Linked DNA regions of Homo sapiens: all the other regions are reported to be linked to region 1. Evidence: microRNA targets listed by miRTarBase, many of them from high-throughput screens and not tested one by one. Region 1 holds a microRNA gene; each other region holds the end of a gene's coding sequence.
What was found. The annotated mature microRNA hsa-miR-4310 reads GCAGCAUUCAUGUCCC and lies in region 1 at 1,142-1,157, opposite strand. An mRNA with a match to its seed (bases 2 to 7 or 8) in the 3' UTR can be bound and repressed. Matches are read on the target gene's strand: a 7mer-m8 pairs with bases 2 to 8, a 7mer-A1 pairs with bases 2 to 7 and ends in A, and an 8mer does both.

Region 1 (4,094 bases):
AATTGCCAAAGTCCTGCAGAGAGGTCCCTGTGCCCTTCCCCAGCTTCCCTTACAGCAGCATCCTATATAATGATAACATTAAAACCACAAAGCTGACGTTGGTGTAATACTACCAACTAGACCAGACCTCATTCAGATTTTATTAGTTTTTGCAAGTATGCATCTGTGCGGGGCAGTGGGGGATAGGTCTATGCAGTTTTATCACAGCTAGAGATTCACGTACCTGCCACCACACACGTGCTCTCTTACCTCTGAGGTGGGTGCTACCCCCATTCTAAAGAGGAAGGAGTGAAGGCGGGTGAGAGGAGGGAGCCTGCCCGAGGGCATAGGAGGAGCAGGCATGGCGCCCACGCCCTGCTCTACAGCCCACACTCTTTCCCTGCTCTCAGTTGGATTTTCAGTGCGGGATGCATGGCCAACCTCTACCCAGCAAGGCCCTCTTACCCCGGCCGAGTTTCCTCGGAACTCGCGGAGCCGCCGTCGGAGCTGCAGGCAGTGCTCCAGGTCCTGGCCCAGGTCACCAACATTCATCTTCACCTCCTGTGAAGGCCGAGGGTGGGGAGGGAGCGCTGTGAGCACCAGCCCAGGCTCCTGGCACCTGCTGCTGGGGATCCCTCCTGTCAAGGGAGGGCTCCTCCCCCCATCTCTCAGCCCCCACCCAGCTGGGGCTACACCTTCTCCTGGATCCAGGCCTCTGCAAGGTCCACTCTCTGCAGGAACTCCAGGAAGTTCCGCCTGTCCTCCAGCTCCTGGCCCCTGAGGGCCATTGCCTGCCTCAGGTCCTCCCAGTGCTTCCGCAGGCCCTGCAGCCGCTGGGAGACCTCTCCGGCTCGAGGGTGACTCTGTGCCAGGAGAGCCTCTCCCTTCTGGAGGGAGAGAGGGGACACAGGACATCTTGCCTGCTGCACTTCCTCCTAAGACTGACATTGCCCCTGGGCCACACTTTGGGGCAGGCATGGGGCTGAGGGCCCGGTTGTTACCTTGGCAACAGAGGTCATGACCTCCTCATGGGCCTGGACTTCAGCCTCAAAGGCCTGGTGTTTCAGCAGGGGCTTCAGCTTATCTCTCAGGTCCCCAGGAGGGACCGGCTCCTTCAGCTGCTGGGCCCACGCCTGGATCCAGTCCTCAGCCTGGTGGGGGTGGGACATGAATGCTGCAATGTTCTGCAGCCTCAGGCCCCAGACGCCACAGGCCTAGCCCCCAGCCATTCCCAGGAGGCTGGCCTCAGGGGTGGGGCGGGCAGCACCTGGTAAATGAGCCCTGAAGGTTCCAGCTCCGGAAGGTTGCTGCAGGAGGCAGCCGGGCAGGGCCTTGGGTGGGCTCTCGTTTTGGAGGTGTGGCCCCTACTCCTGGGGCCCTGGGCTGCTCTGCTCCCTTCCCCACCTCTCTTGCCCTGGCGCTGCTAGAGCTCGGGACACTGGTGAGGTCTCCACACAAAGGGGCTTAGATCCCATGTTCTGGGCTCCAGCACAGCCTCTGGGAAAGCCATCCACCCCCGAACCTGTTTCCGCCTCACAGTGTTGCGGTGTGAAGGCGGCTGAAAACTGTCGAGTGTGGTTCCAGTGGAAGGCCCTGGGCTGGGGGTGCCCTCTGACCTGGGTTGCGGCCTGGGTGAAGCTGGCCATCAGCAGGGAGGCATGCAGGGCGTGTCCCCGGCTCTCCGCCAGCTCCTTCACTCTCATCCGGCGCTGCAGCAGGATGGGAAGCCGGTCCCGCACCCGGGGGCGCCGGAGCGTCTTCAGCCGCTCACGCAGGGCTGCCTCCTGTGGGGCAGGGGCACAGCTGCTGCTCTCCCACCCTGGGCTGGGGCAGGGCCTGGCCTGCAGGGCTCACAGTCCTTTCTTTGAGGGCCCCGGAGCCCTTTCCTCAGCCCCACATGGCTGAGGGGTATCTGATCCTCCCAGCCACAAGCCAGACCAGTCTGCTCCCCAAGGACCACACGGTGTGGACAGAGCCAAATGCCCCGTGTGGGTCTCTGCAGTGTGGCCCATCTCCCCCTGGGCCCTCTTCTTGAGCCACACATACAACTTGCTCAGTCAACCCCAACCAGGACCCCAGCCTTGCAGGCTCATCAGCACTGCCTCCAGGAACACACCAAGCGCCCCGTGACCCCCTTCAGGACTCTCTCCCAACCACCACACTCTGACCACGCCCAGGCCTCCTGACTCCATTACCTTCTTGTCCTGGGCAGTCAGAACCTTCAGGAAGACCTCGTGCTTGCGAATCAACTGCTCTACCTCTTCCACCGAGCTCCCCAAGGCACTGGTTTTCAGGGAGACCTGGATCCACAGAAAAGTCAGAGGCCACCAAGCCTTCCAGCCAGCCAGCCCCTCCAGCTGCAGTCTGTGCCCATGGGCACTCTGGGTATGGCAGGGCCTTAGGAGTGCCCACTGAGCTTGGCATGGAGCTGTGAGGAGTGGGAGTCCAGGTTGGGAGGCTGCGATACCTCAACCTCTGCACCATGTGGGGAGCATGACCAGCCTCTGGCCAACTTCCTCGGGGCTCAGTCTGGGATAGGGGCTGGGGATGTCAGTGGACGCTCAGGGGCCTCAGCACTTCACCATGGCCACCTGGAAGGACTTGTGCACAGCTGCCTCATATTAGAGAAAAAGCCAGAGAGGCAGGAGGAAAGGGACTGAGCAGAGAGGAGAATAGAAAGGAGGAGCAGGAGGCTGAGCGGAGTGTGAGGGCGGGAGGGGACCTGCCTCCTGGGCCGCGAGGATCTCCTCCAGGCGGCCGCACTCTCTGAGGAAGAGCTGCTCCTGCTGCTCGGCCTGCAGCCTCTCTTGCTTCCGTGCCCAGGTCTGATACACCTGGTCCCGCTGGTCCTGCAGGGCTCGAAGCTCTTCCTGGACCTGGGGATGGACACATGAGGAGCCTCAGCTGGGGAGGGTGGTGTGGGTGAGGTGAGGACTGGATCCTGAGGGAAGCTCCTGAGGAGAGGCCAGCATGGCACAGTAGGACGGGGCACCAGGTGGCCAGGCACAGGCTTGGTCAGCTAGGGTATGTGGGGGCACCAGGGGAGGGGGCCCACCTCCTTGGTGGGTGTCCCTGCAGCAAGAAGTGCCTGCTGCCCCAGCTGGGTGGCCTGCTGCCACAGCTTCTCCCGGGCCTCCAGCTCCGCCCGGAGCCACTGGTGGGCACTGAGCTTCAGCGGGCCACTGCTAGGCTCTTGCGAACTCTCCTCCACCTGCAGGTCCTGGCGCACGCGGGCTGCCCAGGAGGCATAGTCACGCACCTGATCCCGGGGACACGGAGGGAGAGCCGGGTGAGGGCTGGGCTGGGCAGCAGGAAACCAGGTGCTGAGGCAACTGCAGCCCACCTGAGTCCACTCACACAGCCCGAGCCGACCTGGGTCAGGGCCTCGGGTGAGGCACATGTGGCCCTTTGTCACTTGGTTTCTCCGTTCTCATCCAACCCGATCCTCCCAGAACCACGAACCCCCTACATGAGCCAGACCCTTACCACGACACATCTCTGCCCTTTGTTCCTCCTGCCTTCCCATCTCTACAGAGCTCACCTGGATGAGGCCATGAGAGGACTGGCGGCTAGCAAGATCAGCCCCATCAAGACTGCTTGATGGGGAAAGAAAGTTCACCTGCTCTTCAAAGGCCCCTTGGCCGCATTTGCCTGGCAAAGCCTTCCCTGGTATTTGACATTGCACTGCTCTCCTTGTTCTCTGAATTACTAATTTAACCCTTACAGTCTTCTGCTGATTTGTGTACAACTATACAAGATTGGTGCTGGAGGGACTTCAGGCCCTTGTCCAAATGTCTCATTGCATGGAGGAAGGAAGGGTAAATGGCAGAAAGAGTCTTGTAAACTCTAAGTGCATGACAAACCCAGGGTTAAGTGCCTTGCTCAAGCTCACACTGCTAGCAAATCAGCAGAGTTAGGTCCCTAAACTCAAGCCTTTTTGCAGTGTCAGTTTGGGCCTCCTGGTCTGCCAGGTCCCAGGACAGTGGGATGCCGGGGACACCCCGTGGCCAGGACCTACTGTCCCAGTCTGATTCTCTGGGTTTCGGGCTCATCTCCCCAGGAAGCAGGGCTCCATGAGGGCAGCAGTTCCACTTTCCATAGCTTCTATATTGCCC
Region 2 (4,094 bases), not on the chromosome of region 1:
ATTGCTGGAGTGATTGGGGCCCGAAAACCTCAGTATGACATCTGGGGAAACACTGTCAATGTGGCCAGCCGAATGGAAAGCACTGGAGAACTTGGGAAAATCCAGGTAAAGACCTATTGGGGAAGCAGTTGACTAAGGGGAAAAGATCTTCCCCAGAGGTGAGGGGACTTGGACTTAAGAGCTGCTGTCTCACCCAGCAGCCATGGTTCTAGCTATCACACTCTCCAGGGAAGGCAGACTGCATGCCTGGGCAGTCTCTATCTGTCCCTACCATGACAGGTGTTCTTCCCGCCTCTGAAGACAACAGGTCTCTCTTCCTTTTCAGGTTACCGAGGAGACCTGCACCATCCTCCAGGGCCTCGGGTACTCTTGTGAATGCCGTGGCCTGATCAACGTCAAAGGCAAAGGCGAGCTGAGGACTTACTTTGTCTGTACGGACACTGCCAAGTTTCAGGGGCTGGGGCTGAACTGAGGGCTCCTGCTGGATTCCGAAAAGGCCGGGAAGCCAGTCTCCTTCCCTGAAGCAAGCCCAGGAGAAGACTCTCCGCCCCACGCCAATCCCAAAGGCATGCAGATGGCTGTGCATGTTGGCTTCTTTGGACCTGCACTGGAGGATTTCTCAGACACATGCACCAGATTCTGGCTCGAAGCAGCCACTGAGCCATAATGCGCAGGGGAGGCCAGAAGCTCTGTGCCTGGTCTGTAACAGTTTCCAGGCCAGCTGGAGAATGTTCACTGGTTCGGGGCTGACTTTGAGATCTTTGTTCCCTGAGGTGCCAGGCAGGCAACTTTAGCACATGATGAAAACAGACTTCCACCTCAGTGGCCTGTGGGCACGCACAAGTGAGGTCTGTTTTTCTAGACACCAAGGGGGAGTAAGCTGAGCTGTCTAGCACGGATTGGAGACTCCCTCTCCCTGGTGGGCCTGGCAATGACAGCATTTCTCACAGAGGCATTCTGGTAAATGAAGCTGAAAGGGGTGTTTTACATCTGTAAACGGTTTCAAACAGGTAGAGAGAAAAACACCACAATTAACACTGTTACTTTTTGCCTTGTCTGGCATGTTTGTTTTAAATGAATACATTAATGGGGTTTTTATCCTTTTGAATGACTTTTCAGACACTAGACATAAATCTCTTCCCTCCAGTGTATGCTCTGCCTTTTTAACCACTGACATGTAAGGAGGACTACTGTCTAGCATCAGCTTATGGGGTCAGCTGGCTGTGGGGATAGAGTCCTGAGGAATGTGGTCACAGCAAGAAGGCGGGGAGCAGCAGAGCCTTGCCTTTGAATGAGGCAGCTTGTGAGGCAAGCATTCTGGAGAGAGGTGCTTTGAAAGTAAGGTGCGGCCTTTCACCTCTTCCTTGATTACTCACACATCTTTGCGTTCTCCCCTGCCGTCCTTCAACTGTATCTTACTTTTCTTACCAGAAAGGAATGGAGTCTGTTTAGAGACAACTTGGACAACCTGTGAGTGCATCTCTTCTTTCCTTTAGTCTTCACAGCTAACTCTGGAGAGCTTCAAAACTAGAAGGATCTACTCCGCATGGGTGCATGCAGAGGCTCCTGGATCTGGGAAGCCCGCCCCCTCACAAATGCTGAGCCGTTCTTGCTCTGAAACTGCGTGAGTCAAGGCAAATGCAAAAAGCCAGGTTTTGGGGATGTGTCTTACTGTGCTTCAACTTCCCAAGGAATTGAAAGTCAACCTAACTGTAACAACAGGGTGAGAAATGACCAAACTGCCCGTGACTTTTTCTGAATGGACTTCATAACCGGAAGACTTAACCGGTGGCCTCATCACCAGAGCATCGCCAGGATTTCTAATGCACTCAGTTTCCCTACATAGCAGGGATTCTTAGCTAGGTGTCCCCATGAACCCCGTAAAGTTCTACACAAAGTCTTGCATACAGGAGCCTTTACAAGATGATTATACAGGGTTGCAGATTGGGTGACTGACCAGACTTGTTGGGGTCCTGGGATGAGTTGCCCCGGGCTGCAAATTAAGAGTACAGCTAAGTGCGGGGGTGGCGGTGGAGGGAACGAAAATTGAACCTGTCTGCCTGTGCTGTGTCGTGTGGCTTTATCAGCCCGAGGAAGGGCAGGTGTATTCTAATTTGCACAAAGGTGCTGGGTAGACTAGTGGCAGCTCTCATGTGCTGCACATAAGTGGAATCAGTATGAATAGAAGAACTTGCTGTATAAAGGAATTTCATGGCAACAATGCTGGTAAGGGCAATTAGCCTCGCTTAAGTTGCCTTTTTTACACACCAAAACTTTTTACATGAAGGGCTGGTTTCACATGAATACTATACTGAAATCTGTGCTCTCAAGATCTAGCAGTGACCAGGGCTGCCCGGCGGGGGCTCTCCTGGCAAGTCAGGAAGGTTTCTGTTGCTAATATAACATAGAAACACATTAGTGCACTGGGCCTCTCTGAGGTCAGCATATTTGTACTCTTGGAATATTTGTTTTTTTCTTCAGTAACAACAGAAACCCCAGTTGGGAGTTTAACAAATAACTGACTACCACTCACTCATGCATTTTTATTTCCAATTAAAGCAAAGCACTGTGCTGTGCTCAGATAATAATAGTTTGTAAGTAAAAGTTTTTAGTTTTCAGTGTTCAGGTTATAGAATATAACTGACCATAAAAATTACCTGCAGGTATTTTCTTTTTATGAACTTGTTTTTAAATTACCAAGTAATTACTGGTGTCATTTTGTTTTATGACAGACACACGTATCTAACAAACAAACAAACAGTGACCTTCTCCATGGGTCAAGGACTTCCTTACAATTTCTCCTGAGTTAACTTTTGTGAAAATAATACCTAAGGTTTTCTGGCTTATTGAGGAAATTTCCTAACAAACAAACAAACAAACAAACAGAAGAGAAGATCATTAACCACTGTATACTTTGTGTATATAATAGGTCAGTGTAAAGAAATATGATTTGAGGTGGTGCATGCAAGTAACTAGGGTTTATTCTATATAATGAATATTTATAGATCTGTAACATTTGTTTCAAAATGCTGTTTCATTTTTATAAAGTACCAGTGTTTAGCTGCTTTTTATACATTAAATTAGCAATTTGAAAAACTCAAATATCTGAAGGTATTTTATTTTCGTGGTCCTCATGAACTCACTAGAGATTAAAAGTAGACTCAAACAACTTGAAAATTTGACTCTTTTAGCATAAGATTTTAAGTCTTTTGAGGGAATTAATTTTCCTTTACCCTATTTGTTCTTCCTAAATACTAATTAATTTTCAAAGTCAGGAAAATAATAGAAATCAAATGGCTTCCTGCCTGGGTGATTTATAGAAGGATTGTATAAGGGCCTTCAAACTTAATTTGTTCACTGAACAAGGCTATCTATCTATCTATCTCCATCCTGATTTTTTTCCCTTGTGTATAACAGGTTCTATACCGATTCAGCAAAATCACCATTTATCTCAGCTTGCTGATAAAAGGGGGCCATGAATCTTGTGGTCTCCTACTTAGAGTTCAACTCCTTGGGTACTTGACCTTTGTATTTCAGATAAACAGTAAGTAAAGTAGAAATGTCACCTTTTGGTAATCTGGTAATTCCCTGATCTATTCAAGGATGACTTAGTTTATCTTATTTGGCTTATTACTTTGCTATAGTACTAAGTAACTCCTCTTTCTTTAAAAAACGGAAAAAACCAAAAAAGAACACTAGCCATGTGACAGTGCTATAAAACTCCCAGTGTGCTTTTGTCAGGGGTGGGTGGGAGGTGCCTAATTACCCATACAAGGGCATCATTCCCACTGGGTATGCAGGGGCAGAACCACAGTAGTAAATTCTAAAATTATTTCAAGTATGTTCGTATAACGGAAAATCTCACTGGATGGGGCCGTTTTAAGAACGCTTCTTAGTGATGATCCTGTCTGTGGGACATAAGGAAGAAGCATTGGAAGGCACTATTTTGAAAGAATGCTGCACAGGTATGGCAACAGCCCCAAGCACATTCCTTCCTCACGAGTCCCAGGTCCAGCTTTATTACCTAATACAAGTCCAACCTCTGGAACATCCAAATTCGCTGTTCCAAAGTTTAATTAAAAACACAATTTACA
Region 3 (4,094 bases), not on the chromosome of region 1:
GAAAATGTCCCAAGAAGCTCTCGGAAGGAGATGGCGCTGAGAAGCTTCGGAAGCTGCAGCCCTCACTTAACAGTGGGCGGCTCCTACATCTAGCCATGCGAGGTCTTGGGGAGCTGGGCGCCCAGCCCCAACAGGACCATGCACGCTGGCCCCGGGGCAGCAGCCTGTCCGAGTGCAGTGAGGGGGATGTCACCATGGCCAACACCATGGAGGAGATTCTGGAAGAGAGTGAGATCTAGGGTGGAGTTCCACCACCCTGGCTCTGCTCCCAGGGACTCTTGAGGGGGCCCAGGAAGAGGAAGCAAAGCAGGACACACGTTGCTGGGCACGGAATCATTCTCGTTCCATTCACCATGCCACTTTGATATGAAAGCTATCACAAGGTTCTTCAAGCTCTGTATGAAAGAGGCTGTGTGTCATGCTCACAGCCTCTGCCTGCTCTTCTCATCCTAATAACCCCCACCAGTGTGTTTTCCACAATGCCCACCAGACCCTAGGGCCTGGCTCTAAATTCAAGCCAATGAAGTCCCACCATGAAGAGAGGTCTCCTGTTATAGAGAAGCCAGCCAATATCTCTTCCTTTATCCCTTGGGGTGCATGCTTTCCATCTGAGGTTGGGTTTAGGGTGCGTGAAAACCTCCTAGGAAGCTTTTAAAATGCAGAATCCTAGACTTGTGGCTAAGATTCTAAGACAGTGAGTCTGGGACCATGGCCAGGAATTGGAGCTGTTTAATAAGCATCCCAGGTAATTCTGCTGCAAGCCCACCCTTGGAGAACACTGGGCAGGGTGAGAGGGAGCTAGAAGCGCCCCCATGTGGCCATGGCAGGATGCTGCAAGAGACAGTCTGCTCTCCCAGGTCAGCTGGGGTGTGCCTGCCCTCCTTGGAGAGTATGTAACTCCACCCACCAGAGTGCCACTCCTCTCTGCTCTTCCTCTCCTATCAAGTCTTGCCTCTCTCTCTCTTTGCCTCAGTTCTCTGTCCCTGCACAGCAGGAGTTCTGCTTGATCCTCCCTTTGAGGATTGGCCCCAGTGCCTGGGGACCCTCTGAATGTCGTCTTTGGTCTGTTCCTCTCCTTTCTGGCTCTATCTACCTTTCTGAGTTTGGCTTCTACCAGCCTGATTTACACTACCATTCTCTTGGGGCAAGGAATGTCCCCACCATTTTTGGTTTGCCATTGATGCATTGATTGTCACACCTGTTGTCCCAGGAAGTTGACCTATAACTCTCCATGGCCAGAGTCCCTGCTGATCAGAATTCAATTTGCCCAGTGGGAATAAATACTGAAAGCAGGAGGGCCCAGGTAAAGCAATAGGAGTTTGGCTGGATCTGGACATGCCCAGGGTGGCTCTGAGAGATCCAAGACTTTGCATCCACCAGCCTGTGGGATCTTTCCTGCCTACTGTGACCCATGGAGGCTGAGGAGGGCCCAGGCAGTTGGGGTCAGGCTCAATGACTGAAAGTATAGGGCAAGAGGCTGTAGGAAGATCAAGGGATGGACATCCTTTGGAAACAGTGTGTTAATGCACAGGAGTGTCACTTTCATGGTATGTAAAATGCATGTGTACGTGGGTGGGGTATGTTGCTATGGGACTAAATACCACCTTGTCTTCGGGGGAGTCAGTTTGATACTCCTCAAGCAGGGCTGCCATATTTAGCAAACAAAAACAAGGTACTCAATTAAATTTGAATTTCAGACAAATAGTCTTCTTGTATAAGTATATCCCATGGGCATATTTAATCTGAGATTGGAATTCAATCATGCATCTTGTCTTTTACTGGCATCTCTGTTTTCAAGGATACTTTGCCACAGGGCTGGGACTAGGGTGAAATAATCAAGGCACTCATCTCTAAAAAGCTCAAAGTAAATGATCAAAATAAATCATATTTTAATGCAATATTCTAAAAAAACAAATTAACAAACTACAGCCCATGAGCCATTTATAGAAATGAAATTTGATTGGAGCCAGGGGCAGGATAAGGGTGAGGCAGGAGAGGCCAGCTCTTGCAAGTGCAGGCTCTGGTCCTGACTTTCAAATGTTGTCTATGAGGGACTTTTAATGTGAATTTTTATTTTTAGACAATTGCATTAAAATGTTATTTATATTGACTATGGGGACTTTTGGGGCCCCCTTAAATTTTGCACTTGAAATGGGATCCCCACTTGTGTCACCCCATAGTCCAGCCCTGGTTTTAGGATGGGGATGGAGGCAAAGGCATCAGGCAAGTAATGAAGCAAAGGTTTATTTTTTGGTGTCCAGATTATCCATAGCTCAGTCATGAAAATCTATGTCTTTCTATTTTTCTCCTTTCTGCAAATGTCCCTGCCTCGGCTCATCAGCCAATTAGCTCCTAGAAAGCTGGGGTCATCTCGTATTCCCAGCAAGTACCCAGCACAGTGCCGGTTCAGAGCAGGTGCTCCACACACATTCCTGGAATGAGACAGCACAGAAATGGCTCTCGGGAGCCTCGGATGCTGCTGGGAGTAAGTGATCCAGGACCTTACCGCTAAGAGGAGAAACTTTTTTTCAAAGCATTTATAAATACTCCCTCCACCCCTCACTCCACAAATGGGGTGATCAACACTTACTGCTTGCTCTTGTTCTGCTAATGATTAAAACAAGTTTATTTAATTTCATTTGCATTTTGTTGATTCTTTTACATTTGTCTCTCACTGGAGCTGAAGGTCTCTCCCACCCATGAAGAATGCGATGCACTATTCCTGGCCAGAAGTGAGGAAAAGGGCTGTGGCGTTTAGCCAGGGACCTGGGTGCTCCAATATCTTAAATTTGGTCTTAGGGACCAGAGGAGTGGGCAGAGGGGCCGGGACCAGAAGCAGAGGTCAGAGGTCAAAAGAATGGAAGGAGAGTGTCTCCCCTTTTATAGACCACCCCATTGGTCACTCAGCTTGCCTGTTGCTTTGAAGATCTAGTCTAGTGGTTCTCAATCCTCGCATTACAATCCCTTGGGAAGCTTTTTATTTATTTTTATTTATATTTATTTATTTGAGACCCAGTCTCACTCTGTTTCCCAGGCTGGAGTGCAGTTGCATGATCTCAACTCACTGCAACCTCCACCTCCCGGGTTCAAGCAATTCTCATGCTTTAGCCTCCCGAGGAGCTGGGTCTACAGGCGTGAGCCACCAGGCCCAGCTAATTTTTTTTGTATTTTTAGTAGAGACGGGGTTTCACCATGTTGGCCAGGCTGGTCTTGAACTCCTGACCTCAGGTGATTGCCTGCCTCGGCCTCCCAGAGTGCTGGGATTACAAGTGTGAGCCACCACGCCCAGCCCCCTGGGAAGCTTTTTTAAAAGACCAGTGACAGGGTCTGACCCCAGAGGTTCTGATTGAAATGGTCTTACTAGACCTGGGCATTGGGATTTTTATAAGTTCCTGAGTGATCTTTTTTAAATTGTGGCAAAATATATATAACATAAAATTAACCATTGTAGCCATCTTTTTTTCTTTTTGTTTTTTGAGACAGAGTCTTGCTCTGTCACCAGGCTGGAGTGCAGTGCTGTGATCTCGGCTCACCGCAACCTCCACCTCCCAGGTTCAGGCAATTCTTCTGCCTCTGCCTCCCGAGTAGCTGGGACTACAGGCGCCTGCCACCACTCCTGGCTAATTTTTGTATTTTTAGTAGAGATGGGGTTTCACCATATTGGTCAGGCTGGTCTCAAACTCCTGACCCCAGGTGATCCACGCGCCTTGGCCTCCCAAAGTGCTGGGATTACAGGCGTGAGCCACCGCGCCCGGCCAGCCATTATTAAGTGTATGGTTCAGTGGCATGAAGTACCTTCTTACTGTTGTGCAGCCGTCACCACCATCCATCTCCAGGACTCTTTCATCTTCCTGAACTGAAACTCTACATCCATTAAACAATAGCCTCCCATTCTTTCCTCCCCAAGCCCCTGACAACTTCTACTTCCTGTCTCTGTGAATTTGCTTATTCTGGATACATCAGCTATAAGTGGAACTGTATAGTATGTATCCTTTTGTGATCAGCTTATTTCACTCCCATAGTGCCCTCAAGGATCATCCACCTTGTAGTGTGTGTCAGAAATTCCTTTTTTAAAATGCTGAATAATATTCCAT
Region 4 (4,000 bases), not on the chromosome of region 1:
AGGTCCCAAGATGATGGAGTCATAAGATTGGGTGGGCAATGACCACACATGAGTCCTGTATGGAGCAGTGTCTCAGCCACTTGTGACTCTTTTTTTCAGCCATGGTACACATTGGATGTTTCAAAGCCTCAATGCATGTTTTGTATCCTGAAAGTCTATTGTTCTCACTTACAAAAGACATAAGAATCAAATTAATACTTTATTATCAAACACTATGTACAACAGAGGTTGCTAATAATACAGAATTTAAAGAACGCAGTTTTTTTTTTTTTTTTAATGTTTTACTTTTCTTTCCTCTGCCACCCAAGAAAGTACAGTACAAAACAATAGTCTAAACTAACACGAACTGTTACCTGGTCTATTAAAGGATACACGGTATCCACTAAACAGACAGATCCTTATTTCCCTGCTTGATGTTGCAAAGCCCTTGGCAACCAGGGGCAAAGGTCACTGGGGTTTGACTAACTGGGGCTGAGTGGCAGCTATGACTGTCCTTCAGATTTTTGAGTTGTTTTTGAAATTAAAAGCTTCTAAAAGTTGCATCAACATCCTCCTAAGCCCCCAGAGGATTGTAACACCACCACAAAAGGCCACCAACACTTTTTAAACAAAGTGAAAACTGTCTGACACCAATCATCTTGAAAACTCCATGGCAAGTGCATTAGCTATGATTTCATCACTTACAGGTAGAGAAGCTTACTGTCTACTGGTGTGGACACTCTTGCTATTTTCTTTATACTTAATTTGCAGTGGCAGAATGGTGAAGTAAAGGGGTCTAATTTCACTGTGAAAAAATGAAAGACAATGGCAGAGAGGGCCATGAGTAATTATTTCACCATTTGTTAGAGACAAATGCTAGGAAAACCACAGAAGTCACCATTTCTAAAATGCATTTAGCACTGCTAACATAGTTATGACTAACTGGAATCATGACAGGATCATTTGATTTCCTTGTGGTTATAGAACATGCTGTATTATTTTGGTTCTATTGATCCATTTTAGAAGGTATCTTTCTCCCCCTACCCAAATCCCACTGGACCAACAAGCCTGTAACTATTAATTAAAAAAAAAAAAGTATTTCTGCATATGACTGAGAGTACTGCATATATAAATAGCTAAAGGAAAAAGGAATTGAATGCCGTGAACTTTTGTTTTGGTGAAATGGTGGCTGCCTTCTGTGATAAGACTCTGCCACTCCAGAGGAGTTCCTTATGTCAGAGGGGAATAGGATTGATTGTATCTGTGAGGCTGGCAACCCCACACACATGGTTCCATGTGAGAACAGACTCGGCAGTGACATCCACTCCAAATGGATCAGGTAAGCCCAGATTACATTTCAACATGTGTACAACTCTCCAGGGCACAATACGTTTACAGCTGCCTTTCCTTCACATACTTTTCTAATTCAGAACTACTCACAATTCTAAGCAAATTCCCATTCACGAAGTCTGTCCATAATGCGACCTTCTCTTTTTTTAACATATACATCTTAAAAAACAAATATATAAAAAATTCTTATTTTGCTGGAATGCTTTCAATTTTTCACATTTTACATGATCATCACATTTATTTCTTATATTGAAAGGCATGGTTTCTGTTGACATGTCGTGCAAAGCCAAAAAAAAAAAAAAAAAAAGGGCTGGATTGCTTTTCAATTGGTCTAACACTTTTCCTTGTCTAGGCTTTGGATTTTAAAGTTCATGACAGCCCCACCACCAGTAGAAACCCCAAGGCTTGCATTTCCTGGTAATCGACTGGAAACGTCCCCTGTTGGCCATGCTAAGATTCCTTCAACAGGGTCATCCTGCATTTATTCTCCTTCTGCCCCACCCCCACAATGAAACAAGATAGCCCCCATATTTCTAAATGTATCAAGGGATACCACTTTTTCTCACAAGTTTAAATAGGACAAGCATATATACTCACTCTCAGCATAAAGTATATCTAAATAATGTATTTTCTATTCTAGTGGATTTTTAAAAAAATATTTTGTTAAAGTCTTTGGGACTCCATCTTGTTTATCTCCCACAGATAAACACATGTTCCCCCTACGCTTTAGGCTGTGTCAGAAAGGGAAAGAATATAAAATCAACACTTGAATTTTTTTACTCCAAACTTTGGAATTTTATTTCCAAATTTCCCTTTAGCCCTCCCAAGTAGTGCTGACTGACTCTCCTGGTGACAGGGGTTTGTGTCCGAGCCCCTGCGGTCAAGGAGTGTGGAGCAAAACGTGGGTACTAGGGTGGGAGGCGGGGAAAGGCCACAGCACACTGGCGCTCCAGCAAAGCCAAATCATGTCTCCTCTGGCCACTGCGGTCCTCTCCTTGGTACATGTCATCCCCCAGAGGAGTATCCAAAGCTATTCCACTATGCACTCATCAACCCTGGCTTGTCAGCCTTGGGGAAGGTCACTTTATTCATAAAAATGCCTCTTTGAGTTTCTTAAAAAAAAAAAAAAAAAAAAAAAAAAAAAAAAAAAAAGTTGTAGCACCATGGTGATCTGTATTCAAAGAAAAAATATCTGGTGTGCACTGCCCAGTCACCAAAAAAATTAGAGGCACTCACACATACACACCCCCAGCAAACCTGTAGTTTTCTCTGTTTTCACACCTGCTCTGTATTAGCATTCCACACCCAACCTGCCTCCTAGAAAAAAAAAAAAGGCTTCTTTTAGAGAGCACAAGTTTTGCTGTCAAGAATGCTTTAAGACAGTCATATTAAAAAAAAAAACCAGTGTCTCAACCTTTTAGAAGCCTGTTCATTTACATACTCCTATAGGAAATGGTGTAATATCGTATCTATTCTTAATACCTCCCCTCCGGACCTGACATGGTGACATGATGCCCTGCGCGATCATCTTACAGTTCTGAATGAGAAGGCATAAATATTGCATAGGAGAGCAAAACCCTCCCAGCCCTAGCCAGCGCTGGCTGCATCTGCCACTATTCTTCCTTGTCCATAGCCCGCTGACACAGTGCGCTAACGGAGGTGAGTTCTTAGAGGAGAATGCACAGGAGCTGACGAACCACTGGTGTCACTATGACAATTTGGCATTTTCATCTGGAGTCCATTTAATTTGGGAGGGGTGAGAGAAGCCAAGGGCCAGGGCTGGGGGTGGGGCGGGGTGGGGTGAGGGAGGCAGGAACAAGTTTAGGCCCCCAACCTGAAGTTGTTGCTTAGAATTCAGGCTGAAAGAAAGAAAACAAAAATCTGACATCTGCCAAAACCCAATAACAAGTCCCTTCTTAGGATGAGCAGTTAGGTGGATCTCTGGTGTTCCAAGACCCTGATGTTTTCTGTGACAAGTGATGGGAGGAGACTGTGCTATAATGTCAAAAGCATCGCCAGGAGGAACAGTAGGATTGCCAAAAGGCGGCTGGGTATCCTTGGTGTTTGTGCCGCGTTCTCGCCGCGGGATGGCTCGGCTGACTCATGTACGGTGTCATCTGTTCAAATAGAAAGCACACATTCCAATGAGATTTCACATCCTTAATAACTCTCTTGCAGCAGCCTGCTGTTAACAGACCTCGCCACCCTCTGCAAAGTAGGGTAATGAACCTTGTGCCACCATTGACTTTCATGTCTGCATAATCACTCATTATTTACAGCAAACAAAGAAGAGGCAAAGAAAATTGGACTTTCTCAGCAATATTAATACTTTCCTTAAAAATTGAGGGGAAAAATTATGCATACACCGTAACCTTTGGCCTGTGAGCTGCTTTGGTTAGCCAGCAGTCAGACACGCCTTGCACAAATTTCAGATATCTGAATGTACCTTTGAAACCTAAGATGTCACAGGCAAGCAAGTGACATGTTGGTGGGGGTGGGGGAAGGGGCAGTTATGTTGGCACAGTAGTGGTTAACCAGAATGCGCTGCCCATTTCCCTTCTTTTAGCTGTTTCATAGGATTAGTGTTGAATGCCTGGTTGTTGGATGCCTAGACGAATTTTCAAACATGAAAAACTAAATGCCAAAACAGCAGCATTTTGGATAAACTATA
Region 5 (4,094 bases), not on the chromosome of region 1:
GAGAAAGGGGACAATTTGGTTGGTGACTTTATTGTGCCTTTGGCATAGGCCAGGATTCCCACAAGGAAGCGGACTATTGGAAAAGCCTGGAGGCTAGTAAGTAAACAGCCTTTCTTGTCCCCTCCCTCTCTGAACACAGGAAGAATTCCCGCCTCTCCCTGCCTATTCCTGTATATAATTCATTCCTTTCTTTAACATCTTTAACAGATATATTGAGGGCCAGATTTGTGCTAGGCACTGTTCTAGATGCTGAGAATGTAAAAAGTGAAAATCTAAGTTAGATGTAATTAATGCTATGGAGAAAAATCAAGCAAGAAGGGGAGAAGGGGTGATGGTGAAAGCCTTGGCAATTCTTGATAGGGTAATCAAGGAAGGCACCTCTGAGCAGGAACTATTTGAGGGAAGCTCTGAAGGAGGTGGCCATGCTGCCATGTAGGGAAAGAGGGAATGGTAAGGGGGAGCATGCTGGTATGTGGGAGGGGCAGCAAGGAGGCTAGTGCTGGGGAGTGGAGTGAGCGCTGGGGAGTGGGTAGGAGAGGAAGCTTGAGCAAGACGCAGATTTTGTAGGGCCTTGTAGGCCTTTGAAAGGACTTTGACTTTAACTCACTGTGAGAGGAATGAGGAGTGGGCTTTGAGCAGAGAGTGACATGATCTGACTTCTGTTTTCTCAGTTCGCTATGGCTGCTGTGTGAGGAAGAGACAGGGTGGCGAGGCTGGAAGCAGGGAGTCCACGGAAGGGAAATACAGGCTCCTCATTTATTTATTTCTCTTCTTTTTCTCCAAAGCAAAGAGATTGTTCTGAAGACCGTGCTCTAAGGGCATTTGAAAGACTGCCAGGTAGTGCGAGCCTGAGATGGTCTGGAGGATTCTCTCTAGCCGTGACTCCGCTGCTCTGAAGGTCAACTGAGAAGTCTTGTGGGACAGAGACTTGAGTTAGGAAGCCCTCAGTCACTTGCCTTCCACGGTGGCCAGCCCTGCTGCCATCATTGGCTGAAGCACCACCAGGATTCACGGCACCCAACTGCTTCAGGGTACTTCGTAGACTCTGCCTCACTACATGTCGAAAGAGTTATTTGAGTTCTCTTCTGTTTTTTTTTAATTTGTTGTTGTTGTTACTGTTTTGATACCTCGGAAACACCTCCGTTGACAGTTGTTTTGGATAGGTTGGGTGTACCCCATGGCTGCCTCTGAAGGCAGTGTCTATTTTGAGAGGATGGCTTACCTCTTCTTTGTGAAAATACTATCTCATTTCCTGGAAATAAAATGTAAAACCTGTCAGTTGCTCAGCTGGGCTTTGGTGTATTTACCTTCCTTCCCTTCCTGCTCCCAGACAGTCTCACAAGTAAACACCAGCAGCTCATAGATTACAACCAAGAAAGTGACTGTATCAGATGATAGACTTCAAGTGAATGTCAGCCTAAGAGGCCAAGCTGCAGATCGTGGCAACAGATGAGCTCTGTTAACCTCCTGACTGTCGTGTTTCCTTTTTATTACAGAGGTGGGTCACTGTTTACCTTGTTTCAGGGGTGGGAGAAACTCCTTTCCTTCAGCTGGCATTTGAATGTTTCCAAATCTATTTTATCTGACGTCATGAACACACAGGCAATGATTTTATGACAACTTGATGTGCTTTTTTCTTTATTTTTCTTTTACATTAGAAGTTTTCTCTCTTTTCTCCACCTCTCCTTTATTTTTAATTTTAATTTTAATTTTTGAAACAAGATCTGACTCTGTTGCCCAAGCTGGAGTACAGTAGTGCAATCTCAGCTCACTGCAACCTCCACCTCCCAGACTCAAGCCATCCTCCCACCTCAACCTCCCAAGTAGCTGGGACTACAGGCATATGCCATCACACCCAGCTAATTTTTGTTTTTCTGTAGAGACAGGGTTTCACCATGTTGGCCAGGCTGGTCTCAAATTCCTGACCTTAAGTGATCCACCTGCCTAGGCCTCTAAAATGCTGGGATTACAGGCGTGAGCCACCACGCCCAGCCTATACCCCATGTATTTTCATAAAGGGTTGGAAACTATTGATTGCCAACTTTTTAAGGATGGTAGGGATTTTTTCTTTGTTGAATATACTGTGAATTTTGGGATTCTGGAGTCCTTAGTCTTCATTTCCATTCTTCTGCCCATGATTACTGATCAAAATACTGGTAGAGTCATGGAGGAAGTAAGTTAAATGTGGAAAAAATGCTTTAAAAGTACTTACTATAACCACATCATAAGAATTCTGGAAAAATAGAGAACAAAAGGAAAAGATTGTTACCACCTTGATTTAATAACTTCTTGTTTCCCCATACATGTGTTTTGTTTATAGATTGCATGGGTATATGTCAATTTTTATATGTTCTGTGTTTAGTTTACATATTGTAATTCATTTTTAAGAGAGTACAGACATACACTTTTTGAGTAGGCAATATGTTCACATAGTTTGAAATTAAAGGTACAAAATGGCGTAGAATGAAATGCCTCTCACCCTTTCCCCACAGCGACTACTTCCCACTCAGAGGCAACAAGTATTACAGTTGCTTGTATATTCTTCCAGAGATCTCTGTCTATACAAGCAAAAACACATGTGGTCTTTTTCCTTGCTTTGCACAAATGGTAAACTGTACGCTATTCTGAACCTTGCTTTTTTCAGATATATGTTGGCAACAGTTCCATGTCAGTACATAGTTTCCTTTCTTTATTACAGCTGCCTGTTTTTTCATTGTGTATTTGCACCATCATTTACTTTTCTGGCTTACTTTTGATAGAAATCTAGGTTGGTTCAAACCTTTTTACTCTTAAAACAATGCTGCAGTTAACACCCTTGTACATATATCTTTAGAGAGAAGATATTTTAAAAAGAAATACCTTTTTAAAAATTATTTTATTATTTTTTAATAGAGACTATGTTGCCTAGGCTGGTCTTGAAATTCTGGGCTAAAGCAATCCTACCACCTTGGCCTCCCAAAGTGCTGAGATTACAGGCATGAGCCATTGCACCTGGCCAAGAAGAGACATCTTGACTTGAGCCTGAAGACTATGTACAGAGACTGACCTCACAGACTGACCATTCCATCCCACAGCTGCTGGACATAGAGTGATTTGCAGCCCCTCCTTTCAGAGTACCACATCCCTCTCAAGTGTTCCACAACATCTAGGAAAGTGAGCTCTTAAAGACAGACTAAAAAGAGTAATAAATCAATACAACAACATTAAAAGCCAGACTAGCGGAGTTTGAATCTTGGCCCTGCTGTTAGTAACTGTGTGAGCCTTGGGCAAGTTACTCAGCCTCCTTGTGTCTTGGTTTTGGTTTCTTCATCTCTAAGTAATTATATCTGTCATTATTGCCCTGATCACAAACAAAAGCCTGAATGTACTATGTTTAAAAGACAAACCAAAAATTAACCCAAACTTGCATTATTTGTCTGAGCTACAGAATGTTCTTTCCTTGGAGAGATATCTGATATTAAACATCATCTGCATTTTACTTGCCTAGAAAATACACGGTAACTTTTCTGCCTTGCAGCATCAAACTATAGTACAGCTGAGCCCCAGTGCTGTGCAGTCTGACTCTAATTAAAGGCACCTTCTTTACAGCAGGGCTCTGGGGAACTGGAAAAGGGGGTTTGTTTCATTATCTGGTTTTATTAAGCAGATGAATGCAGCCAGCTATATGAAGCACTTTGCAGTGAATGGCAGGTGTCCCATATCTGGTTATGTTAACCTAGAAAGGGCTCACTCTACCTCTAGGCATGTTTCATCCCAACAATCAGACTGTGCCAAAGCAGGGGACTTTGTCCTTTGTGGATTGCATAGCTGGATACCCATCATCTGTTTCTCTGATTGGAAGCTGCTGTTGTACAGAAAGACCTGCATTTCCCCCTTGTCTCCAGTTCTCTCACTACTTTTTCCTCCTCTGTGAGTGACCATCCAGGCAGTCACCATAACTGCTGGAGTGTCTGGGATTGGTAGCTCTCTCCAACTGCCTGCTTGCTCTTTACAGCCTCTCTCTGTGACTGGAATCTCTCCACCTCATCGTATCTAAGGATAACCCAGAAACATGGGGTGTCCTAGGTATGTTTATCTCGACACTGAACCCCCTA
Region 6 (4,094 bases), not on the chromosome of region 1:
AGACTTGGTCATTGGGAAAGTAGAGTCTCAACAAATAGAACCGAACCAACCAACCACACAGATAAAAAAGTGAATCTTGACCCTTATCACATATGGTACACAAAAATGAACTCAAAATGGATCACAGACTTAAATGTAAAAGGTAAAACTATAAAAGTTCCATAAAAATAAAAAACATAGGAAAAAATCATGTCCTTTGAGTAGGCAAATTTCTTAAACTCAAATTATTATAAAATATCATAAATCATTATTATTATTATCTTGGTTTACTGCAACCTCTGCCTCCTGGGTTCAAGTGATTCTCCTGCCTCAGCCTCCCGAGTAGCAGGGACTACAGGGGTGTGCCACCCGCCCAGATAATTTTTGTATTTTTAGTAGAGACGGGGTTTCACCACGTTGGCCAGGCTGGTCTCAAACTTCTGGCCTCAGGTGATCTGCCTACCTTGGCCTCCCAAAGTGCTGGGATTACAGACATGAGCCACCACACCCAAATCTTTGATAAATTAGGCTTAATAAAAAATATTCAAAAGACACCATTAAGAAAATGAACAGGCAAACCAAACATGAAAATATTCACAATATTTGTCACAAATGGAGACAAAGAATTCTATATATTACATGTATGTTTTTCATGCAGAATATGGAAAGAACTTGAGTCAACAATAAGCATCCCAACTTAAAAACAGGCAAAAGGCACGAACAGACACATCACAAAAGACGACACGGAAAAGCAATAAGCAGATGAAATCATAGACATACATTATTCAGTGGGCAAATACAAATTAAAATCATAAGGAGGCTAGAGTGGATTAAATTTTAAGAGACTGACAATGCCAAGTGTTAGCAAAGATATGGAGCAACTGGAATCTTCCCATAATGTAGTAATAGTGTAAAATGATTCAACCACTACAGAGGGCTGTGTGACAATTTCTTAGGAAGTTAGAAACACGTATTGCAATGGACTGAATGTTTACATCCTTGCACAATTCATGTCAAATTCCTAACCCATAAGATGATATGAGGTGGGGTCTTGGGGAGGGGACAGAATCACAAGGGGAGAGCCCTCATGAATGGGGTAAGCTTGCTAGTCCCTTTCCACCACGTGCAGTCACAGTAAAAAGACATCTACTTAAAAGGAAGCAGGCCCTCACTAGACACCAAATGTTGACACCCTCATCTTGGACTTCCCAGCCTCCAGAACTGTAAAACATAAATTTCTGTTGTTTATAAGCCTCCCAGTTGATGGTATTTTGTTATGGCAGCCTGAATGAACTAAGACACTTACAACACAGCAATTAAAGTCCTAGGTACTTACCCAAGAGAAATAAAAACACATGTGCAAATACATACTTTTACACAAATGCTCATAGTTTTAAGAGCCGAGACTGGAAACCCATTAACACATGGATGAATAAACAAATGATGGCTTATCCACACAATGGAATACTATTCAGCAAGGAGAACTACTGAAACACAAAACAGCTTGGATGAGTCTAAAAACATGCCAAAGTGAGACATCAGACGCAAAAGAACACATAGTAAATGAATCCATTTGTATGAGGCTCTAAACCAAGCAACACTAATCTATGAGGATAGAAAGTGGTTATCTGGGGCTGGAGTGGGCTTAACTAGGAAAAGGCAAAAGGGAACTTCTTTGGGTGACAGAAACGTTTTTGGTTCTGGCGGTGGTGGTTACACAGGTGGTGGTGGTTACACAGGTGTATAGATTTTTCAAAACCTTGTACACTTAAATAGGCGTTTTACTATATGAAAATTGAATCTCAATAAAGTTGATTAAAATGGTCTGGTAAAATCTACATTTGAAACATCTCTAGTAATGCTGATTTTCCAGAAAATGTAGATCTCTTTTTTGAATTATTTGTCCTGAGACGTTCAGGGTTGGTAGTATTTAAGAACTCAAAATATGGCCTCATGAGAAAAAAATTATATCGTTACAAAACTGGACTTTGGGGTTCATGTCCAGATGAAATTCAGAGGTAAAGACTAACAGTTTGGCGAGGCGGCTGTCCACTGTCCATTTACCTCGCCTGCTTTCGAACAGTCCTAGCCAAAAAGCCATCTGTCATGGCTCCATGTTTCTGCAGATTCCTCTCCTGGACCCTATTTTCTTCTTCAGCTGCTCTCTACTGATCTCTGGCCCAGCTGAAATGTCACCTCTTCTGTAAGGCCTTCCCAGCTCTGTGCCACAGCAGGCACCCCCTCACCTGTGCTCCTTCACACCTGAGGGCACATACTTAACTCACCCTACTGTGATCTCCGTCTTCCCCACTACACGGTGGATGACTTCAGGGTAGTGGGTTGCTCATCTGTTTTCCCAACATTGAGGACTATTCCTTATAGATATCAATACATTTTGAAATGACACAATGAGCCAGAGAGCATGGAAAATGACAAGAGCTCAGTTCAACCTCAGAACTGCTACAACAGAAGAGTTACGTAGCGCATTGAGACTGTGCCTTTCGAGTGAGACAGAAAGATACAGACAAGTAAGTAAAGACCTTCTCTTGAGACCTGCCTCCTCCTGTCCCCACTGTTCCAGCTGAGCCAGGTGTCAATGCCCTCCAGATCAAGTAGACAGTTCTGCATGAGCTGTAAGGTGGCACACAGGAGGGCGTGGATGTGCACAGGATATTGCCTGCAACTTCTAAGTAGGAGCAGCAGACAGTAGCAGGGCTGAGAAGATACTTCTAACAGAATCGTAGATTATACTGATACAAAATGAACAAACAACAAAAAAAACAGCCAACAGCTGAAAATTTTTAGAATGGCAGTATAGAAAGGACAAAGCAAGAGAGATGCCAATTACACATAGATTTAGGGGTGTATTTTTTATTGCCCTGTGCTAGACAGTGGACACATGGAAATCAATCAGATATGATCACTGTCCTCAGGAACCCAACAGCATAGTGACAGAGATAGTCTATCACATCATTCTGACATATGCAAGTAAATATAGTAATAGCAGTAATCACTGAGCCACAGAAGTGTGGAGAGTGCTGCCAACTAAGCTTGAGGGAAACACCCATTGACATGATGCCTGAGGCTTGTCTTGAACCATGATTCAGAGTTAATTAGCTGAGAAGAGACCCTTCAACAAGAACAAAGGCGAGAGAGGTAGGAAGCCACGTGGAGCACAGGGAAGATGAAGCAGTCGGTGTTGCTGCAGCATTAACCGTGTGGCAGGAAGTCAGGCAGTGGGAGGCAGGGCTCCAGGACGCAGGAGGCCTTAGGGCACACGATGGGAGGCCTGGAGTTCCTCCTCAGGACAACAGGGAAATGGCTCGGGGTTCATACACGAGTTACCTTTCTTCAACTTAACACATCAAAATGTCCTAGGTAACATTCTCCTAAATCGTAAGATTAGATACACAGTTGTGCTGTAATAAGGGATTTAAGTCAAGGATGGACTCTGCTTAACTGGGGATGAAACTTCTTAAAAACCTTTTCTTGAGACCTGTCTTCTCCCTGCCCCTACTGTTCCAGCTCAGAGTCAGGTGTCAAGCCCTGTGACTCTCCTGAGGACAGTGCTCACAGCTGAGGAGAAGGGCTGAGCCGAGTAGGGCTGCACAGTGGCAGGTGGCACCCACTGCAAAAGCAGCCCCATCCATGACTCACAAAATTCTGACATGTCCAAATCTTAGAAACCACATGAATCCTAATTCCACGCATTTCCAAACATCACTCACTGGGCGGGAAAGTAATTATTTTATAAGTTACCTGTGTGTTCCCCCTTATCTACAGACCTCTCACCCAAATGTATGGGGGCCTTACTCAAGGAGAGTCCCTCTTGGTGAACCCTTTGATTATTTTTAACGTTTGTAGTTGAGTTAAAATCTCTCCCATACTGACTACATTCATAGAGCTTCTCTTCAGTATGAATTTTCTGGTGTTGAAGGAAGTTTGACCTCTGAATAAAGCCTTTCCCACAATAACTGCACACATAGGGCTTTTCTCCAGTGTGAATAATCTGGTGCAGAAGCAGCTTGGAGCTCTGGATGAAGGCTTTCCCACAGTCTTTACATTCGAAGGGCCTGTCCCCAGAGTGGATCTTCTGGTGCTCAGTGAGATGGGCT
Region 7 (4,000 bases), not on the chromosome of region 1:
GGTCATATTTGGAGTATTTTGAAAGCAGAACCAACAAAATTTGTATTGGGTGTGAGGTGTGAGAGCAAGGAGTAAAGCATGACTTCAAGATTTTGCCTGAGCAACTGGTAGGATGCGGTTGTCATCAGCTGAAATGAGAAAACCTGTGGGTGCAGCTAGTTTGAGGGAAGAGCAAGATTTCTGTCTTGAACATAGGTTTGAGATGTCTATTTAGACATCCAATAGAGATATTAAATAGGCAGCTGGAATTCAAGAAAGCCTGGAAATAAAAGATAAAAACTGCAAGTTGGCAGTACATTGATAGTACTTAAAGCCATGAAACTGGATGAGATCACCAAGAGAGTGAGTATAAGCAAAGAGGCAAACCGTGGACTGAGTCCTCAGGTGTTTTAATGTAAAGAGATTAGGGAGAAGGAAGGGATCAGCAAGGAGACTGAGAATGACTAGTCAATGAGGCAGAAGTGTGGTCTTTCAGAAGTGAAATGAAAGTATATCAAGGAGAAAAGGAGTCAGGACAAATAGCTGGTCTCTAAATCAATGTCATTAAAAATTTTAAAAACAAAACCACTCACTTAAAAGCTCTACAGGGTATAACAGCTAGATAAGACACATAGACCTAGATTTAATACTGCTTTAGAAAAACCAGTGGTAAAAAACGTTTTGAGGCCAAATTGGTAAATTTAGCTTTAGTATTAGAGATGAAAACACTGAAAGGGAAAGCTCAAGGTTGCTGTTTTTTTTTTTTTTTTTAAAGGTATGTTCTCACTCTGTCAACCAGACTGGAATGCAGTGGCATGTTCACAGTTCACTACGACCTTGACCCACTAGGCTCAAGTGATCTTTCCACCTCAGCCTCCCAAGTAGCTGGGACTACAGGCACATGCCACCACACCTGGCTAAATTTTTGGCAAAGATGGGGTCTATTGCCATTGCCCAGCCGAACTCCTGGCCTCAAGTGATCCTCCTGCCTCAGACTTCCAAAGTGTAAGGATTACAGGTATGAGTATGCCAGGCCAATTCTTGACTTTAAAAGCAGGATTCAGAATAGTGTAAATAAGGACCTCATTTTGATCAAAAATATATGTATGTATGACGCACACAGAATGATCAGAAAGGATATATAAGGTATTAGTGGTAAACTTTGGATGGGAATATGAAGTTCTAGTTTTTAATATTTTGCTTGCTATATTTTCAATTTTTAATATTTCACTTGCCCTTCCCTCCCCCTCTTCCTTCTTCCGTTCCTCTTTCCCCTCCCTCCCTCCCTCTCTCCTTCCTTTGAGACGGAGTCTCATTCTGTTGCCCAGGCTGGAGTGCAGTGGCACCATCTCCACTCACTGCAACCTCCACCTCCCGGGTTCAAGCAATTCTCCTGCCCCAGCATTCCCAGTAGCCGAGATTACAGGCATGCACAACCATGCCCAGCTAATTTTTCTACTTTTAGTAGAGACGGGGTTTCACCAGTGTTGGTCAGACTGGTCTCAAACTCCTTACCTCAGGTGATCTGCCCACCTCGGCTTCCCAAAGTGCTGGGATTACAGGTGTGAGCCACTGCGCCTGGCCTATATTTTCTACAATACATTTGCACTGTTTCTATGACAGAATGTTTCAACATTTTTCAAAGGAAGTGATGATTCATGAAATTACATTCTGCTGATAAATCAAGAAGACTGACAATTGACTACTGAATCTAGTAATATGGAAGTCACTGGTGACCTTGACAGTATGTTTATGTGGTGTGGGGAGAGCAAAACCTGACTGAAATAGTTTGGCAGTTCCTCAAAACATAGTTAAACACAGTTATTGTATGACCCAGCAATTACAGTCCTAGGTATATACCCAAGAGAACTGAAAATATATACCCATTAAAAAACCTTGTACACAAATATACACAGCAACATTACTTGTAGCTGCCAAAAGTGGAAACAATCCAAATATTCATAACGAATGGATAAAATGTGGTATATCCATGATGGAATATTATTCAGCAATAAATAATGAAGTGCTGATAAATGCTACAACATGGATAAACCTTGAAAACATTAGACTAAGTAAAAAAACACCAATCACAAAGAAAAACATATTGTATGATTCCATATATATGAAATGTTCACAACAGGCAATTCCATAAAGACAGAAAGCTTTTTAGTGCTTGCCTATGGCATAAGGAGAGGTGATGGGGAATGACTGCTAATGGGTATAAGGTTTGTTTGGGGGATGTTTTGAACATTTTGAAAATGTTCTAAAATTATAGTGTTGATGGTTGTACAACTCTGTAAACATATTAAAAACCAGAGAACTGTGTACTTTAAAAAGCTGGATTTTACAGTACATGAATTATATTGCAAAACAGCTGTTAATAGAAAGCAGCAAAATCTAGCTGATCTGTGTATTTCACTTCTTTACAGTATTTTCTGATTTACTCTTTTGTTGCCATTGCACAGATTTTTTTTTTCTTTAACCTCTCTTACTTCCAGAGATTTGATCCTTTTTTTTTTTTTTTTTTTTTTTGAGACGGAGTCTGGCTCTGTCGCCCAGGCTGTAGTGCAGTAGTGGCACAATCTTGGCTCACTGCAACTTCTGCCTCCCAGGTTCAAGCGATTCTCCTGCCTCAGCCTCCTTAGTTAGGATTACAGGTGCCCGCCACTGTGCCCGACTAATTTTTGTATTTTTAGTAGAGACAGGGTTTCGCCATGTTGGCCAGGCTTGTCTCAAACTCCTGACCTCAGGTGATCCGCCCGCCTCGGCCTCCCAAAGTGCTGGGATTACAGATGTGAGCCACTGCACCCGGCCTGATCATTTTTTAATAACATTGTTCTCCTCCTCCTCCTTTAAGAGACAGGGTCTCACTGTGCTGCCCAGGCTGGCCTCAAACTCCTGGGCTCAAGCAGTCCTCCCCACTCAGACTCCTGAGTAGCTGGGACTACAAACACACCACCACGCTCAGCTAACTCCCCATCTCTTAATCCCTATCCCTACACCATTCCCAAACTTTCCCAAATCAAAGATTAACCAGACAGAGAAAATACACTTTTACAGTTTAAGAAATATTAAATGTGATAACTGTTCAGGATCTACTTTTTACACAATCTCAGTAACGTATGTACATAGTCCCAAAAAAAAAAAAAGCAGCATTTGCCTGGGAACACATCACTATAAGCAAACAAAACATCAAATGGCCTGAATTCTAAAATACCTTTGGATTATATAAAATTACATTGTAAAGTTACAAATGTTGCTCATTCTTGAGAAATGTTTGAATGTTTAAATAATGTTGCCATAATACATATTATTTCACGACATTAAAAAAAACAATGGTGAATACAAGGTATCATCATTTTAAGGGTAAAGAGATAAAGCAAGTACATATACAAATCCACTGGAAAAGCTAAGTTTGGAGCTGATTTCCTCTCTTGAATTGTAAAATTTCAGTAATACACAGTCACTATCTACTGCTGGAATAATGCCTGAGCAATTTAGGTAAAGATACAAACAATAACAAAAACCCTGCCCAAATATTCAAACTTGGAGAATTCTAGTTAAAATAATAGAAAAATATAAAATTTATCCTTCCAAAAAAAGGTATCTAAGACAAAGGTATAGATACCCCATGTAAATTATTCACAAGTCATATGTGAATCAACCTTTTCTGTATTCCTTAAAGTTGTACAATCGACTGATGAAAAAACAAGCTTCATATTCAAAGACACTTTCAGAACACACCTACAATTAACTTATTAATGCTGAAGTATATTTTAAAAAACAGCTATTTCACTGAAGTCTTTACAGGAGATTTTATTTTTGGTGCATCTTCTTACGCATTTCTTCAAGAGCTGCTTCTTTCTCTCTCAGCACCTGCTTAAGTCTTCTTATTTTTTCATCTCGAATGGTTTCTTCTAACTCCGGTGGTGTCACTGGGAAAATATCTTCGGTATAATTTTTATTGAAGAAATGACTTTGTTCATAAGCTGCATTTGAATTCAAAGTGCCTTTCTCTTGC

Region 2: miRTarBase lists ADCY7 as a target of hsa-miR-4310. Seed matches in the 3' UTR shown: 8mer at 1,595-1,602, 7mer-m8 at 2,220-2,226 and 7mer-m8 at 3,026-3,032.
Region 3: the mRNA of GLP2R is a reported target of hsa-miR-4310. The part of its 3' UTR that is shown has no 7-base or 8-base seed match.
Region 4: miRTarBase lists EFNA5 as a target of hsa-miR-4310. Seed matches in the 3' UTR shown: 7mer-A1 at 1,929-1,935.
Region 5: the mRNA of RNF8 is a reported target of hsa-miR-4310. Seed matches in the 3' UTR shown: 7mer-m8 at 1,957-1,963 and 7mer-m8 at 2,797-2,803.
Region 6: the mRNA of ZNF623 is a reported target of hsa-miR-4310. Seed matches in the 3' UTR shown: 7mer-m8 at 3,185-3,191.
Region 7: the mRNA of LRIF1 is a reported target of hsa-miR-4310. Seed matches in the 3' UTR shown: 7mer-m8 at 3,130-3,136.

The regions. Positions count from the first base shown.
Region 1 is chr15:41,865,364-41,869,457 of GRCh38, forward strand. It overlaps MIR4310 (microRNA 4310), which reads right to left and starts at 1,188; the gene lies at 1,132-1,188. It overlaps SPTBN5 (spectrin beta, non-erythrocytic 5), which reads right to left. Exons shown (of 68, transcript NM_016642.4): 33 at 3,035-3,238; 34 at 2,706-2,855; 35 at 2,175-2,279; 36 at 1,596-1,763; 37 at 981-1,130; 38 at 675-866; 39 at 445-540.
Region 2 is chr16:50,315,034-50,319,127 of GRCh38, forward strand. ADCY7 (adenylate cyclase 7) reads left to right here. Exons shown (of 26, transcript NM_001114.5): 25 at 1-105; 26 at 326-3,102. The coding sequence ends at 472. It overlaps BRD7 (bromodomain containing 7), which reads right to left. Exons shown (of 17, transcript NM_013263.5): 17 at 924-4,094. Among named protein-coding and RNA genes, the nearest start is that of MIR6771, 24 kb to the left of the region's middle. RefSeq lists an enhancer at 4,061-4,094.
Region 3 is chr17:9,889,467-9,893,560 of GRCh38, forward strand. It overlaps GLP2R (glucagon like peptide 2 receptor), which reads left to right. Exons shown (of 13, transcript NM_004246.3): 13 at 1-2,633. The coding sequence ends at 239. Among named protein-coding and RNA genes, the nearest start is that of RCVRN, 14 kb to the right of the region's middle.
Region 4 is chr5:107,377,931-107,381,930 of GRCh38, forward strand. EFNA5 (ephrin A5) reads right to left here. Exons shown (of 5, transcript NM_001962.3): 5 at 1-3,446. The coding sequence ends at 3,325. Among named protein-coding and RNA genes, the nearest start is that of EFNA5, 290 kb to the right of the region's middle.
Region 5 is chr6:37,389,957-37,394,050 of GRCh38, forward strand. It overlaps RNF8 (ring finger protein 8), which reads left to right. Exons shown (of 8, transcript NM_003958.4): 8 at 786-4,094. The coding sequence ends at 802. Among named protein-coding and RNA genes, the nearest start is that of RNF8, 38 kb to the left of the region's middle.
Region 6 is chr8:143,651,117-143,655,210 of GRCh38, reverse strand. ZNF623 (zinc finger protein 623) reads right to left here. Exons shown (of 2, transcript NM_001261843.2): 2 at 1,481-4,094. The coding sequence ends at 3,728. Among named protein-coding and RNA genes, the nearest start is that of ZNF623, 17 kb to the right of the region's middle.
Region 7 is chr1:110,944,164-110,948,163 of GRCh38, forward strand. It overlaps LRIF1 (ligand dependent nuclear receptor interacting factor 1), which reads right to left. Exons shown (of 4, transcript NM_018372.4): 4 at 3,027-4,000. The coding sequence ends at 3,796. Among named protein-coding and RNA genes, the nearest start is that of LRIF1, 18 kb to the right of the region's middle.